Regions from separate parts of the Homo sapiens genome. Here regions 2, 3 and 4 are each reported to be linked to region 1. Evidence: microRNA targets listed by miRTarBase, many of them from high-throughput screens and not tested one by one. Region 1 holds a microRNA gene; each other region holds the end of a gene's coding sequence. Distances are between the middles of the regions.
Evidence for each region. Region 1 holds the annotated microRNA hsa-miR-454-3p (UAGUGCAAUAUUGCUUAUAGGGU, at 1,525-1,547, opposite strand). A microRNA usually pairs through its seed, bases 2 to 8, with sites in the 3' UTR of a target mRNA and lowers its output. Matches are read on the target gene's strand: a 7mer-m8 pairs with bases 2 to 8, a 7mer-A1 pairs with bases 2 to 7 and ends in A, and an 8mer does both.

Region 1 (4,000 bases):
AGAGATTCTCCTGCCTCAGCCTCCCAAGTAGCTGGGATTACAGGCGCCTGCCACCATGCCTGGCTCATTTTTTGTATTTTTAGTAGAGACGGGGTATCACCATGTTGGGCAGGCTGGTCTCGAACTCCTGACCTCAGGTGATCCACCCACCTCGGCCTCCCAAAGTACTAGGATTACAGGTGTGAACCACTGTGCCTGGCCAGTACTGGCTTATTAGTGAAGTCAGTGGGCTAGGGAATAAGCAGGGGGCAAAAAGGATGCCAAAATGTTGAAAGATAGAAAAATAAGCTTTTTTTTTTTTGTTTGAGACGGAGTCTCACTCTGTTGCCAGGCTGGAGTGCAGTGGCACAATCTTGGCTGACTGCAACCTCCACTTCCCGGGTTCAAGCGATTCTCCTGCCTCATCCTCCCGAGCGGATGGGACTATAGGCGTGCACCACCATACCCAGCTAAGTTTTGTATTTTTAGTACAGACAGGGTTTCACCATGTTGGCCAGGCTCGTCTTGATCTCCTGACCTTGTGATCCGCCCTCCTCGGCCTCCAAAAATGCTGGGATTACAGGTGTGAGCTACCACGCCCAGCCGAAAAATCATCTTAAATGTCTGCTCTGAACCCTTCATTTTATAAATGAGAAAATAGCAAAGTAACTTGCCTCTAGTTCTATTTCCATTACTGTTTTCTTATGTAGTTAGACAAAGTTATAGATGATATTTAAGCCATTAAGAGTCACACATGTGGAAAAAATGTAAATTCTTTTTTTTCTTTTTGAGACAGGGTCTTGCTTTGTTGCCCAGGCGAGTGCAGTGGCACAAATCACAGCTCACTGCAGCCTCAACCTCCTGGACTCAAGAGATTTGATTCTCCTGCCTAAGCCTCCTGAGTAGCTGGGACTACAGACGTGCACTACCAAACCCAGCTAATTTTTGTATTTTTTTGTAGAGACAAGGTCTCGCTATGTTACCCAGGCTGGACTTGAACTCCTGAGCTCAAACAATCTTCCCGCCTTAGCCTCTCAAAGTGCTGGAACTACAGGTGTCAGCCACCACACCCATCCAAAAATGTACATTCTTCACCTAAAATTAAAGTTTTTTTATGTTTTAAATTAATATCACTAAAGTTACAAAGCTAGTCAACTAAAAATTCCCTCTGAACACAACATGGTAGTATGGTACAGAAAAATAAAAGAATTCGGATACATGGTAGAAATTCTAGTCCTAGTATCACTAACCAGCTATGTGTCCCTAGGTTAAGTCCCTCATTTCTTTGGGTCTCTCCTATCAAATGAGTTGGAATCTAAGATCCTTTTCAATACTAAAATTCCATTATTTCTTTATACTACAAATAAACCCATTTGTCAAAAAGAAAAGTTACCTTCTTCTAATAAATTAAAAATTTACATTTAAGCCTCAGATTTTAATGTTTATAGTGAAATCTAGTTCCTTGTTTTCTTCCTAAAGATGACTTTTGCTTGTTTCTGCTACATACTTTCTGCAGCCTGCCCATTGTTCTTTCCAAACACCAAAACCCTATAAGCAATATTGCACTACTCAGAACTATTTACACAGCAGAGACAATATTGATAGGGTTCTAGGATCTGGTGATAAACAGAATTTTTTTTAGTTAGATGGCAGAAATTCACTAAGCAATTATGATAATCTAAAACTCATTAGTGTCTGATAAATCGCGCAAATTTGATTCTGATAAACATCATTCACAGCCCTTTCAGTTACAAATCAGCCTCCTGGAAGCCTTGGAAATCAGTGAGGTTATTGTTTAACTTTTTAGGGGCAATGGAATATTTAAAATAAAACTAGTGATTTTTGTAAAGCCCAAGATATTCGTATTTCAGAAACCAGTTTTCTCTAAAATCAGTAATAAAAATAAAGGGGAAAAGTTTTATACTGATCTGAAAAGTGGTATATAAAATACAAAATTAGGTGAAAAAAGTCTATGGAAATCATCATGAAAGCACCCCAAGGGAAACCAGGTTACATTCTGCCAGTTAGATTTCTGATTTTTTCCTCCTATTTTGGAATATTTGCATAATAATTACTGGTTGAGCATCCCTAATCTGAAAATTCAAAATCTGAAATGGTCCAATGAATTTTGGATTTTGGAGCATTTCAGATTTTGGAATTTTGGATTAGGGATGCTCAACCAGTTGTTTTGTTTGTTTGTTATTTTTTGAGACAGCGTCTCACTCTGTTGCCTAGGCTGGAGGGCAGTGGCGCAATCTCAGCTCACTGCAACCTCTGCCTCCAGGCTCAAGCAATTCTCATGCCTCAGCCTCCCGACTAGCTGGGACTACAGGCACACGCCACAACGCCTAGTAAATTTTTTGTATTTTTGGTAGAGATGGGGTTTCACCATTTTGCCCAGACTAGTCTTGACCTCCCGAGCTCAAGTGATCTGCCCGCCTCGGCCTCCTGAAGTGCTGGGATTACAGGCATGAGCCACCGCGCCCAGCCTGTTCTAGTCTAGTTTTCAATATGACCAGTTTAAGGCTTTAAGTAAGTGGCACAAGGTATTCCATACTACTCAACTATTAGGCAGCAAGGAGAAAAGAATATATTGCGGTTGTCACAATATACTGTGTGGTCCTCAGTTTTAAAACACTTGCTTTTTACAAACAACCCCTAGATTCTCATTGCCACCGTATGCTCTCCTACAAAGGACCAGTGCCCTTAAAGCTCTAAACACATCCTCTTATGAGAGACCTTATCTCAACAGCATTAAATTACATAAAGTGAAAAAAAGTATTTCAGTCTCACCTATGGTGGGCTAGGCATAGAGAAGAGTTGGTAGACAGGTGTGTTCTGGACTTACTAAACAGGCTTAGAAATGCATTTTCCGGCTGGGCGCAGTGGCTCACGCCTGTAATCCCAGCACTTTGGGAGGCTGAGGCGGGCGGAGCACGAGGTCAGGAGATTGAGACCATCCTGGCTAACACGGTGAAACCCCGTCTCTACTAAAAATTCAAAAAATTAGCTGGGCATGGTGGTGGATGCCTATAGTTCCAGATACTCGGGAGGCTGGAGCAGGAGAATGGCATAAACCTGGGAGGCAGAGGTTGCAGAGAGCCGAGATGGCGCCACTGCACTCCAGCCTGGGCAACAGAGCAAGACTCCGTCTCAAAAAAAAAAAAAAAAAAAAAAGAAATGCATTTTCCATAGAAACATTTTAAGGGAGAATTAAGTATCTTAATGGAACTAGTTTGGCTATAATCAAAAAACCTACTTTTATTTTTATTTTTAAATTTTTTTTGTTTTTGAGATGAGTGCTCACTATGTTGCCCAGGCTAGTCTCGAAATCCTGAGCTCACGTAATCTGCCCGCCTTGGCCTCCCAAAGTGCTAGGATTACAGGTGTCAGCCACTGCACCCGGCCAGAATCTACTTTTTGTACATTTTCTTCTCTTCAATGTACATTTAGAAACACCTTTATCTACTCTCCTTTTACTTTGTTCATGGCTTTGGTTTACCATCTACTGTATTATATTTTAATCTATGTTTACATGGTAATGTCGCCACATGGTTTCAAACATCTTCCTGGCAAGAGATCGCTTTTTTGTATCCTTAGTTTTTAATATACAGCCTAATGTGCAGTGACAAAAGGGAATAGATGAAAGAACAAACATTCATTCATTTGAAAGAACAAACCACCTGGGAACCCAACTACCCTTTAAAACACGTTTTAAGGGAAATATTTCAAGTTCCCAGCAAGCTAAGGACCACTTATATCATGTCTCCACAATCAAAATTGGTTTTTGCCTTTTTCTGCTGGAGAAAGTATTGACTATTACCCATTCTCTCTTCCAAACAGAACAAATGCATGACTATGCTTGTCCAAAACAGATAAGCAGTAACATGCCCTAACACCAGGTCACAGACATGTTATTTCAGGCAATTGGCAACCAGAGGGGATAAAAGTGAGCAAGGGCTTCAGGTTCATCAGTTCCCAATCTGCAAGCTTTTTTTTTTTTTTGAGATGAAGTCTCGCT
Region 2 (4,128 bases), not on the chromosome of region 1:
GTGCCATGAAGTATGAGCAAGGCACGGGCTGCTGGCAGGGCCCCAACCGCTCCACCACCGTGAGTGCCTGCAAGGCAGGGGAGCTGGGGCGGGGAGACCCAGGCCTGGCCCAGCCGAACCCTCTCGAGCACCCGTCTGCCCATCCCCAGGTGCGCCTCCTGTGCGGGAAAGAGACCATGGTGACCAGCACCACAGAGCCCAGTCGCTGCGAGTACCTCATGGAGCTGATGACGCCAGCCGCCTGCCCGGAGCCACCGCCTGAAGCACCCACCGAAGACGACCATGACGAGCTCTAGCTGGATGGGCGCAGAGGTGGGCGGGGAGGTGGAGTCTCGTCGGCCTGCCCCAGCAAGGGGAGGCGGCGGGCCCTGAGGAAGATGGACCCACATGGCCACTCTATCAACCTGTGTCCCCATGTTCCCTGCTTTTTTGTTTTGTTTTTTTGAGGTGGAGTCTCACTCTTTGGCCCAGGCTGGAGTGCAGTGATGCGACCTCAGCTGACTGCAACCTCTACCTCCCGGGTTCAAACAATTGTCTTGTCTCAGCCTCCCAAGTAGCTGGGATTACAGGTGTGCACCACCATGCCTGGCTAATTTTTAGTAGAGATGGGGTTTCACCATGTTGGCCTGGATGGTCTCGAACTCCTGACCTCAGATGATCCACCTGCCTTGGCCTCCCAAAGTGCTGGGATTACAGGCATGAGCCACCACACCCGGCCATCTCCTGCCTTTTTTTTTTTGGATGGAGTTTCACTCTTGTTGCCGAGGCTGGAATGTGGAATGCAATGGCGCGATCTCGGCTCACTGCAACCTCCACCTCCTGGGTGCAAGCAATTCTCCTGCCTCAGCCTCCTGAGTAATTGGGACTACAGGCGCCGCCACCACGCCTGGCTAATTTTTTTGTATTTTTAGTAGAGATGGGGTTTCCCTGTGTTAACCAGGTTGGTCTCGATCTCCTGACCTCGTGATCCGCCCTCCTCAGCCTCCCAAAGTGCTGGGATTACAGGCTTGAGCTACCATGTCTGGCCATCCCCTGCTTTTTAAAAAAAGATTTTTTTACTTTTGAAACTAAATAGGCCAGGCGTCGTGGCTCACATCTGTAATCCCAGCACTTTGGGAGGCTGAGGTGGGCGGATCACTTGAGGTCAGGAGGTTGAGACCAGCCTGACCAACATGGTGTAAAACCCCATCTCTACTAAAAATACAAAAAAATTAGCTGGGTGTGGTGGTAGGTGCCTGTAGTTCCAGCTGCTCAAGAGGCTGAAGCACAAGAATCACTTGAACCCAGGAGGTAGAGGTTGGAGTGAGCCAAGATCATGCTACTGCACTCTCCAGCCTGGGCTACAGAGTGAGACTCTCAAAAAAAAAAAATAATAATAATAAGAGAAAATAGACAAGGTCTCCAGGCTGGTCAACTCCTGGCCTCAAATGATCCTCCCACCTCAGCCTCCCAAGCAGCCGGGACTACAGGCAAACATCACCATGTCCAGCTGTCCCCAGCTTTCTAATCTGGTCTTTCTCTTGCCCCAGAACCTCAAGAAGGCATGAAGCCAGCCCCTGCAGTGCCGTCCACCCGCCCCTCTGGGCCTGCCTGTGGCTCTGTTGCCCTCCTCTGTGGCGGCAGGACCTTTGTGGGGCTTCGTGCCCTGCTCTGGGGCCCAGGCGGGGCTGGTCCACATTCCCAGGCCCCAACAGCCTTCAAAGATGGGTAAAGGAGCTTGCCCTCCCTGGGCCCCCCACCTTGGTGACTCGCCCCACCACCCCCAGCCCTGTCCCTGCCACCCCTCCTAGTGGGGACTAGTGAATGACTTGACCTGTGACCTCAATACAATAAATGTGATCCCCCACCCAAACTTGTCTGTGTCTGCCTCGCTTTGCTGGGGTGTGGACCGGGGTGTGGGCAGGGGTTGAGCGCAGGGGACGCAGCTTTCTGCAGATCCCACCCGGGCCTCCCCCACCATCTGGGGATCACTCCTGAAGATACCAGGTGGATGGACCCTGGACCATTTCTGTCTTGAGCATCCATCCGGGCCCGTGTCCCACCTTCCCTGGGTCTCATCTGTGCTCTGTGGAGGCCAAGGGTTCCCTCCCGGGGCCAAAGCCCCTGCTGCAGACAGACCCAGGCCCAGAGAAGGACGGGGGCCTGGGCGCTACTACACAGGCTGCTCCTGCGTGCTCCCCGCGCAGCGGTGCAGAGATCACCCAAGGCCTTAAGATTCTGAACTTTTATTTTCTGGCATGAAAAGTACAAATAATTAAACAATTCCATGTAAAAGTCTGTTACCGCGGCCAGGCCTGTGATCCCGGTAATAAATAGTCTAAACGCAACGCGAAGTGTTCTTGTTGGGTTTTTTTTTTTTTTTTGTCTTTTGTTTTGTCTTTTTTTTTTTTTTTTTTTTTACAGTTTTTTATCACCTCCAACATGGACTCTGTCGTGATTTGAAACCTTCCGAATAAATAACAGGATGAAGGGAGGGGTGGAGGGGCTGAGCCCCCTCCCCCCTGGCCTGGCCCCTGCCCCCCAGGGACGTGGAAGCCCCAAGTCCCCCTCGCCTGGGAGCCCCGGCCTGGCCCCCTGCGGGGAGGGGCTGGCCTCCAGGGAGGGGGCCTGGCTGGGCTGAGTTTTGTGTTTTAGAAAAAGAAGTCCCCTCCCAGTCTTGGGGGTGGCAGGGGCCTAGGCCTCGGTGGGGGGGGGGTGTGTGGGGAGGTGCCCCCTCTCTGGAGCCTGGCCCCCCCCAGGGTGGGGGACAAACCCAGCCCTTATTGCTCGGACGCCCTGCTGCAAGCTTCCCACGCGGACGTGCGTGTTCCCGAATGCAGAGGGCGGAGGGGAGAGAGCCCCAAGAGACAGCAGGGGAGAGGGGTCCCTGCCCTGCTGCAGGGGAGAGGAGAGAGGGCAGGGAGGACTTAAAACCACGAGAATAAATAGGTTCGTGTATCAAGAACAAGCTAGGGATTTCACCAGCTAAATAGGACTGAAAAAATTCTCAAGACAAGAGCAAAAAGAATCCCATTGGTGACCTGGACGTCGCTGGCCGTGGGGACTGTCCCGCAGAGCACACGCCCCCGCGTGCCACTCGGCTACCATTACTGTTATTAATAATTATTATTACTTTAATGATTCCACTTCCCCTTTTATAAATAAATTAGGCATAACCATGTCTCGGCAAAACTTAAAGAAACAAAGAGAACATTGTCGTTCCTTTAACTTGCAAACCGGATGAAGTAACAGAAATATACACGGATGTCCTTACAGGGCAACGAGGAGAATAAATAGTTAACATAGCAATAAGTTAAAACTACAAGAAGCTAAATTCAGCAAAAAAGTACAAGAAAGTTAACTGGTGCCAGTTTATGTCTTTTTTTTTTTTCCTTTTTTTTTTTTAAATCTCTTCTGTGTGTTTTCTTTTTTTGTTGCTTTTTTTTCCTCTTCTGTTTGTGTTTTTTTGTCGCTTTTTTGATTTTTTTCTTTTTTGTTCCTTGCAGCAGAAGCTCCACAGACGTTTAATAACAACACCGGGAGGGGTGGGGGAGAGAGAGCTGGACAGTCAGATGGGGGCGCCATAGCCAGACACCAAACGTGGGGACACCGGGGGAAGGCAACTTAACTATAGCTAAAGTCGGGGGTTTTGCAATTCTCAGTTCCGATGGGGCCGCTGAGTGGGGTGGGGAGCGGTGCGAGGGCTCCCAGGGGCTCCGGCCTGTGGCTTCTGTTGGAATTTTTTTTTTTTAAAGAAAGAAAACTAGGGCGATGCAATGTCCAGACAGAAGCCGGGGGCCGGGGCTCGAGATCGGGGGCTGTGTCCACTGCAATCTGGAAAGACGAAAAACCCAACAAACCGAAAGGGGATAGGTAGGTGACAAGTGGACGGGAAAGGAGTGTGGGGCTGGGCCTTTGGGCCCATCCACCCCACCCTGGGCCTGGCGGGGAGTGCCGGGGTCTTGCTGCCGGGGAGGCCCAGTCCTGGTGGGGGAGGCTCAGGGCTGGGCCTCTCCCTCAGCTGTGTGGGCCAAGGCCTCGGCCCAGGGGGAGGCTGAGCCCCGGGGACAGGGGTGTCCTTTGGCCTCAAGTGTTGTGGGGGGGGGGGCTGCCTCCAGCCCACCGTGACGCCAAGGTGGAACGAGGTAT
Region 3 (4,128 bases), not on the chromosome of region 1:
CATCTGTTCAGTGGAGATACCAGTTCACTCGTTTGTGGGTACACCATTATCCAGCTTCTGTGGTAAGCAGAGCACTTAAGAGGAAAGGCAGGCATATGGGCCTCCGTGAGCTCACAGTGGTGGGGAGCTAGACCCTGGGTACTTCATCAGGACTATGGAGAAGAGGGTAAAGTAAAACGCCTGATGCTCAAAACTAGCAGGCGGTGGTGGCCTGATCTCGGCATACCAGGAAAGGATTTTGTGAGGAAATTGTGCTTTAGTCAAAAGAAGTTGTTCGTGAGGCAGAGGATGGGGTGATGGGAGTACTCGTAGCAGAGGGGACAACACCTGTGAATGTTCTGAGGGAAGGTGCTTGACAGCTCATGAATTCTAATCAGCTTCTAAGATATCTGCCAACTAATCTTTATCATTACATTTCAGGAAACTGGAGCACCCATCCTAACTGATGATGTTAGCCTGCAGGTGTTCATGGACCATTTGAAGAAGCTGGCTGTCTCCAGTGCCTGTTAAGCTGAGGATACAACCAGGAAATGCAACGGTGTCAGATTGTGTTCAAAATGTCTAGAAAGGCTTGATAACATTCCTGTTACTTTTCTAGCAGATTTTAACAAATAATCAAGGACATTTTATATGTAACTCTTTAGATTATAATTTATTTGTATTCCTGTCTTTGTCCTTTTTCTTGCACTATAAAATTATAAGGTCATAAATGTTTTGGTACTTGTAGATGTTTATGTGCTTTTTGTATCCTAACTTTTAGAATCTAAATAAAATCAGAGGTAATGTATTTTGGCAGCTTGTTTAGGTGAGAATCTTAATGATCATAAAGGAAATAAATCTAGATGCAGAAAGTACTGGCTAAAATATTGCTAATACAAATGTGATTTCCTGAGGTCTCTGTGTGAGTGTGTATGTGTTTTAAGTGACTTCCTTAAGAGGTGTTTCCTGAACCTAATTCTCATAATTAAAGTAATGTATATGCAGGATCAAAATGAAACAAATATACCTTATCCTAAAGAGCTCATAACAAATAAGTTACCTCCACTCTATAAACTCAGACCTACTTTTTGAAGATAACTGCTTTTAACCTCTCCTTACAAGATTTTTGTTGTTGATGTATTTAATTTTAGCCCATGTCTCAATTCTCATTTTCAAAGAATCAATATATTAATATACCTTTGGTCATTTTTGTATTTTTATTTTTATATTATCAAGATTGGTAAAATGTATATTCTGGGTCAGATACAGTGGCTCACACCTGTAATCCCAGTGCTAAATTTAGGAGGCCAATGCAGGAGACTCACTTGAGGCCAGGAGTTTAAGACCAGCCTGGGCAACATAGCGAGACTGTCTCTACAAAAAATTTTAAAAGTTACTGGGCCATGGTGGTGTGTGACTGTAGTCCTAGCTACTTGGGAGGCTAAGGCAGGAGGATCACTTGAGCCCAGGAGTTCAAGGTTGCAGTGGGCTCTCATCATGCCACTGCACTCCAGCCTGGGTGGGAGAGCAAGACCCTGTTTCAGGAAAAAAAAGAGATTATATTCTGGCCTATTATCATATTTTTTGTCACTAAGTTGATTGTCAAAGCTGAAAGCTCCTAAGAAGCATTTACACAGCCGTGATGATGTAAATATTGTTCCAGTCCAAGCCAGGTAGGATGACATTTTTCTCTAGGGTGCTAGTGTCCCAGTCAGTCCCTATGTCACTTGTAGGAAAACATTCCAAAGGACAGAATCAGAGTTACTTTCTTACATTCCATCATGCCGCATGTTGGTTTGATCCCTATTTGGATTATGATTTCTTAGATTTGCTGTGGTTTTCCCCAGAATTTCTAAATTTTGTTTGCTTTCTGAGAGAAGAAATATTTTGCTTTCTATTTACTAAGAAATTCTAGCCTATTCTACTGAATGAAGTCCATTTTTTTCTTCTTTGGAGGCCACTGATGTCCCCTTTTAAGGGGGGCCAATAACTTTGACCTACTGCACAACTGTCATCCAGGAATTTCTTCTGTTTGGAATCTCGGGTTAGTTCCACTCTTCCCTTTATTCCATAAGGCATTTTGCAATCTCAAATGACTTTTACTAAAAGGAGTACTTGGGGAGAACTCACTGCATCTTAGCATATCTGCAAATCTATTCTGTCTTCACACTTTATAGCTTTGCCAGGTAATATAGTTTGGATATTTGTCCCCTCCAAGTCCGTCATTGAAATGTAATCCCCAGGATTGGAGGTGGGGCCTGGTAGGAGGAGTTTGGGTCATACCGCTGGATCCTTCATGAATGGCTTGGTGCCATCCTCACAGAAATGAGTGAGTTCTTGTCCTGGGTTCAAATGAGGTATGATTGTTTAAAAGTGTGTTGGCTGGGCACAGTGGCTCATGCCTATAATCCCAGCACTTAGGGAGGCTGAGGCGGGCAGATCACCTGAGGTCAGGAGTTTGAGACCAGCCTGGCCAACATGGTGAAACCCCATCTCTACTAAAAATACAAAAATTAGCCGGGTGTGGTGGCTTGCGCCTGTAATCCCAGCTACTCAGGAGGCCGAGGCATGAGAATGGCTTGAACCCAGGAGGCAGAGGTTGCAGTGAGCCGAGATCGCACCACTGCACTCCCTGGGGGACAGAGCGAGACTGTCTCAAAAAAAATTTTTTTAAAGTGTTACCTCCCCCACCTCTTCCTCTCGTTCTTGCCATGTGGTACATCGGGCTACCTCTTCACCTTCTGCCCTGATTGTAAGCTTCCTGAGGCCTTCACCAGAAGCAGATGCTGGCACCATGCGTCCTGTACAGCCTACAGAACCGTAAGCCATAAGCATAAACCGTAAACCTCTTTTTAAAATAAATTACCCAGTCTCGGGTGTTCCATTACAGAGATCCAAAGACAGACTAACCCACTGGGTCTAAAAAGTATAGGCCCAAGATAATCTCAGAACTTTGGAGTCATTCTTTCATTCGTTCAACAAATAACTATCCGGTACTTGTTGTCTATGGAGTAGTCTTCTAGGCATTGGGAATACTGCCAATAAAACAAAAATTCCTGTTTTCATAGAGCTTATGTGTTAGTTAGGGAAGACCAACAATAACAATGTTAGAAGTAAATGATATGGCCGGGCGTGGTGGCTCATGCCTGTAATCCCAGCACTTTGGGAGGCCGAAGTGGGCGGATCACCTGAGGTCAGGAGTTTGAGACCAGCCTGGCCAACATGGCGAAACCCTTTCTCTATTAAAAATACAAAAATTAGCCAGGCATGGTGGTGCACACCTGTAATCCCAGCTACTTGGGAGGCTGAGGCAGGGACAAATTGTTTGAACCCAGGAGATGGAGGTTGCAGTGAGATTGTGCCACTGCACTCCAGCCTGGGCAACAGAACGAGACTCCGTCTCAAAAAAATAAAAAACAAAAAAGAAATGAAGTAAATGATACATTAGAAGGTAATGAGTGCTATGTAGGAAAATGAAGCTGGAAGCTCCTATTAATTGGATGTTGGAACAGCTGGATTGATTGCAATACTCTGTTTTGAATTTGTATTCGAATACAAGTTATTGTATTTCTTTTTGTCTCTGCCCTACATTCTAGCAGAATTCTAGCAGAGTTTCCTATCTTAAAATGTTGAACATTGGCCAGGTGCGGTGGCTCACACCTGTAATCCTAGCACTTTGGGAGGCTGAGGTGGGCAGATCACTTGAGGTCAGGAGTTCAAAACCAGCCTGGCCAACATGGTGAAACCCCATCTCTACTAAAAATATTAAAAAATTAGCCAGGAGTGGTGGTGGGCACCTGTAATCCCAGCTACTTGGGAAGCTGAGGCAGGAGAATCACTTGAACCTCGGAGGTGGAGGTTGCAGTGAGCTGAGGTCACGCCACTATACTCCAGCCTGGGTGACAGAGGGAGACTTCATCTCAAAAAAAAAAAAAAAAAAAAAAGTTGAACATTTACATTTTTCTGTGCGTTTTCCAAGAATATTTTTAGTTTTGGATATAATTTTTAACACATCATATAGAAGAATACATAAAGTTGTCTGTACAGATTAAGGCCAAAACATCCTCTTTGGCTTTTCTGTTTCAAATTAACAGAAAAAAGACTGTGTGATAGACCCAGCTAACTCTGCGGTTCTCTCTAGTGTCAGTG
Region 4 (4,128 bases), 51 Mb from region 1:
TATATGTATACTCCATCCAGAATTCTGGGGGTGGGGTGCTTCTGTGTTCTCCAGGTGGGGGTTCTGGAGTCCATATGGGAAATCCTACACCGCTATCTCCCCTATAACTCACATGCTGCCAGCTACACGTGGAAATATGAAGGGAAGAACCTGAACATGGATTTTACCCTGGAAGAGAATGGGATCCGGGATGAGGAGGAAGAATTTGACTATCTCAGTATGGACGGTACACTTCACACACCTGCAATACTTCTGTACTTCAATGATGATCTCACGGAGTTGTAGGCAAGGAGATGTACACTCGTGTAGACTCAAGACGTATTTCGAGTTTGGCTTTTTCTGTGCCTTGAGGAAAAGTGGTGGGGCCGAGGGGTGCCTGGACCCAGATCTCCACTCCTCTCCAGGAGCTAGCCTGTGCCCTTCTGAAGTGTAAAGGCCCTATTCCCTGCCTTCATTACAGTTTGCTCTGAGAAAATTAGTGAATTAATCTTTGGGAATGATACAAGAAGATCAAGTACCTTGGTTTAGGGAGATGTAGAAGAGGATAGTCAGAGTTCAGGCAGAACTGTTTGATAGTTAAGAGAGAGTAGTTCTACAGGGGTGAGGGATGGAAGGACTTTTTTGGCAATGATGGAAATGAGATGTCTGCAGGAAGATGGGATTTACAAAGAAATAGGAAATGTTTATCATTGACCATACAAAGCTGGCTTATCTTACTTGTAGAAGAGTGTTTGGCAGCTGAAACCCAAGGGAAAGAAAGGAAGTGCGTCATTATAGGCAATTCAGGCTAGATATTATACTAGGTACTTCATATACCCTCTTTTTTTTTTTTGCCCCCAACAAAGAGAAGGGGTCTTGCTCTGTCACCCAGTCTGGAGTGCAGTGGCAAAATCATGGCTCACTGCAGCCTGGAGCTCCTGGGCACAAGTGATCCTCCCATCTCTGCCTTGAGTAGCTGGGACTTCAGGTGCACGCCACAATGCCTAATTTTTTAATTTTTTGTAGACACAGGGTCTCGCTGTGTTGCCCAGGCTGGTTTCAACCTCCTGGCCTCAAGTGATCCTCTTGCCTCAGCCTCCCAAATAGCCTCTTCAAGACAACTACCCCATAAGGTGGATTACCATTACTATGTTACAGATAAGTCCTTCGAAACTTTGGAAAGTTTAATAGCTCAAAGCCACACTAGGTAGTAACCACTAGAGCCAGAATGCAAATTCAAGTCTGCCCAACTCCAAAGTCCATGTTCTCTCAATATAAAGGGACCATCTCAATGTCTAATCTCATGTTAACATTTGTAGCCACTGCTCTCAGCAAGTATTTGGGATGTGGCTTTGTCCTAGGATCCCTGCACAATAGGAAATTGTGGTCCTATTGTATAGTTTGCAGTTATTGTCTCTGGAAGGGAGTTTGCAGAGTTCTCCTGTGGCGAAGAGGAGGCAAGGAAGGCTAAGTGTCAGTTAAGCAATAGCTATTGGGGCTACTTCTTTGTTAATCCCATACCCCAGATTTCTCTCCTGACCTTTTGGGGCAAAGAGGTGGGTATTTACTAACTTGAAGGAAAACTAGAGTGGGGAAAAGGCCGGCAAATTAGTGACACTTTGGCGAGGGAGAAAAAGGAGGCAGTTTGCCACTTGGAGAAGATGAGGAAGACAGGGTTGCAAGACGGTGACTCCAAAAGAGGGAGCTCGACAGGGGTAATGTAAACAGAGATGCTAACTAAGTCAGAAAACTCTCCTGGTGACCAAAAGAGAACCACTATTGGGGGTAATGGCTAGATTTGGTCTCCTTTAACTTAAGGAGGGGAGATTTGAGAATGACAGACAGTTGAACTTCCTGGCAGCAGCAAGCAAAAAACAAATCAGGAAGAGTTTAGTGTGTCTTCTGGCAGGGGACACCAGGGCCCAGCACAGGAGAAGGTGGCCCCTGTGAGATACTGGTGGGCTATATAGGCATTTTCTGAGGGGCTTTGGGAGGCATGAACAAAGGTGGAAACATTGCTGTTGGCTTCGGCAGTATCTGAATTTACTGTGAGATGGAGGGTTTAAATCTAACCCCATGGAATGCAGGAGTCCATGAATTATCTAAATCGATCATTTTGATCTTTAATCAACTCTGCAATTATGTGTACCTTGTTTGCTCAATTAAACCCTGAACTATTTGAGAATGAAAGCTATGCTGTTCCTCTAGTGCAAGCCTCAGGGCCTGTCCTGTGCCTACAGGATGTCCCCATTCTGCCAAAACCTGTCCCTCTTCCAGAGACTCCTACTTCAATGTCTCTTGCTAGAAACACATCCCTTTCCTCACACATCCAGTCACTCATCAAGTGTAATCTGTCTCCTAAATATCTCTGGAACCTATCTTCTTTTCTCCAAGTTACCATCACCTCTTGTCTAAACTGCTACGGAAACTTCCTAACCTGTTCTCCCATTTCCACTTCTGACTTCCATGCTGCAATGAGAGTCAGCTATGAAAAACAAACCTAAACATCGAACTTTCCTTAGCTTCTTCAGTGGCTTCCAACTGCTTTTGGAATAAAGTCCTAAATTCAAAGATCTTGTATAAATCAGGCTCATCTCGCAACACCCCTCTTTGTTCTCTATGGCCTAGACACACTGGCTTTCAGTTCATTACATGTCTTGCCTCAGACCCTCACACACTGTCCTCTCTGCCTGCAACACTCTTCCTTTCACTTTCCACCTAGCTGATCCTAAATGTTCCTTCCTCAGGGAGGTCTTTTCTGATTTCTTGGTGGGTCAAGACTTTCTGATAAATCAGTTAGCACCATGCATTTTCCAGAGTTTTTATTACAATTGTAAAATTATGGCTGTAATAGGCTGGCTGCGCTGCTAGATTGTAAGCTCACGAGGGCAGAGATCTTGTTCACATCTTGCTCACTGCTATATTCTCATTGCTGAGCACACAGTTGCAGCTCAATAAATTTTGAATGAACTCCAATGTTAAGTGAACTCATCCGTCTATACCTAGTGGGGGGGATGTTGTGTCCTAGTAGGCAAGGAAGGACCAAGAAATAGGATGTCTGGTTCCTGTGCTATAGTCTCTATCCATAGGATTCACTTTCCTTGCTTCCCCAATATCCAAAACCAAAAGTTATTCCATAGAGGGTCTCTGGCCAGGTGCAGTGACTCACGCCTGTAATCCCAGAACTTTGGGAGGCCGAGGCATGGGGATCACCTGAGGTCAGGAGTTCAAGACCAGCCTGGCCAACCTGGCAAAAGCCTGTTTCTACTAAAAATCCAAAAAATTAGCCGGGCGTGGTGGCACACACCTATAATCCCAGCTACTTGGGAGGCTGAGGCAGGAGAATCGCTTGAACCCGGGAGATGGAGGTTGCATTGAGCTGAGATAGTGCCATTGCACTCCAGCCTGGGCAACAAGAACGAAACTCCATCTAAAAAAAAAAAAAAAAAAGTTAAAAAAAAAAAAGAGGGTCTCACCAGATTTTTGGGGGCCAATCCATCTGTCATTTCCCCATATGGCCACCAGGTGGCTGTAATTACCTATAGAGTCAGGGAGACAAGCCTGGAGGGAAAACCCTTCCAAAGTTAGGATGGGAAGGTGGCCTTTGGAGATTTATAAGGGGGAGGGAAGGACAAGAAAACAAGGAAAAACCACATGGCCACCGTTCTATTAGCATTAGGTTTATGCCTGCTTTTTTTTCTCTCACAAGCACATGGCAGGAAAGGAGTGCAGTTAGGAATTCATGGGCTAGAACAAAAAGGAGGTCCTGATTACAGGTATGGGAGTGTATGGGGCAAAGTATGGAGCTGACAAAGGGATAAAGACATCACAAATTTTTAAAATAATAGAATGCATTCACTTATTAATACTTAAAAAAAATCTTTCCAGTAGGCACTGCTTTGTTCTCTAAATAGCCAAGTGGATATTTGCATGAGGAGTATGTAAATAATGCTTTAGCCTAAAACCCAGAAAGCAAACAGAACATGAGTGTAGGGTCCAAGTCCTCTTGTGGTAATCTCTTTTGTGTTAGAGGGTGGTGGGTGAAGGATGGAATGCTGAAGGGAAGGCTGCCGTCCTCAGTGAATCACAGCAGCTTCAAAGGACTCAACTGGCAAGATTTCCCACAGGTGAGGTCCCTACATGCCCACA

Region 2: the mRNA of PRKCSH is a reported target of hsa-miR-454-3p. The part of its 3' UTR that is shown has no 7-base or 8-base seed match.
Region 3: miRTarBase lists SEC23B as a target of hsa-miR-454-3p. Seed matches in the 3' UTR shown: 8mer at 683-690.
Region 4: miRTarBase lists CYB5D1 as a target of hsa-miR-454-3p. The part of its 3' UTR that is shown has no 7-base or 8-base seed match.

Annotation. Positions count from the first base shown.
Region 1 is chr17:59,136,263-59,140,262 of GRCh38, forward strand. MIR454 (microRNA 454) reads right to left here and starts at 1,610; the gene lies at 1,496-1,610. The region is part of intron 1 of SKA2 (spindle and kinetochore associated complex subunit 2); the gene reads right to left.
Region 2 is chr19:11,449,117-11,453,244 of GRCh38, forward strand. PRKCSH (PRKCSH beta subunit of glucosidase II) reads left to right here. Exons shown (of 18, transcript NM_001289104.2): 16 at 1-59; 17 at 150-312; 18 at 1,530-1,852. The coding sequence ends at 296. ELAVL3 (ELAV like RNA binding protein 3) reads right to left here. Exons shown (of 7, transcript NM_001420.4): 7 at 2,210-4,128. Among named protein-coding and RNA genes, the nearest start is that of PRKCSH, 16 kb to the left of the region's middle. RefSeq lists enhancers at 2,996-3,045, 3,076-3,195, 3,120-3,890.
Region 3 is chr20:18,560,231-18,564,358 of GRCh38, forward strand. SEC23B (SEC23 homolog B, COPII component) reads left to right here. Exons shown (of 20, transcript NM_006363.6): 20 at 421-1,185. The coding sequence ends at 510. Among named protein-coding and RNA genes, the nearest start is that of SMIM26, 5.1 kb to the right of the region's middle.
Region 4 is chr17:7,859,328-7,863,455 of GRCh38, forward strand. CYB5D1 (cytochrome b5 domain containing 1) reads left to right here. Exons shown (of 4, transcript NM_144607.6): 4 at 55-2,955. The coding sequence ends at 285. It also overlaps a transcript of NAA38 not described here. Among named protein-coding and RNA genes, the nearest start is that of CYB5D1, 3.4 kb to the left of the region's middle.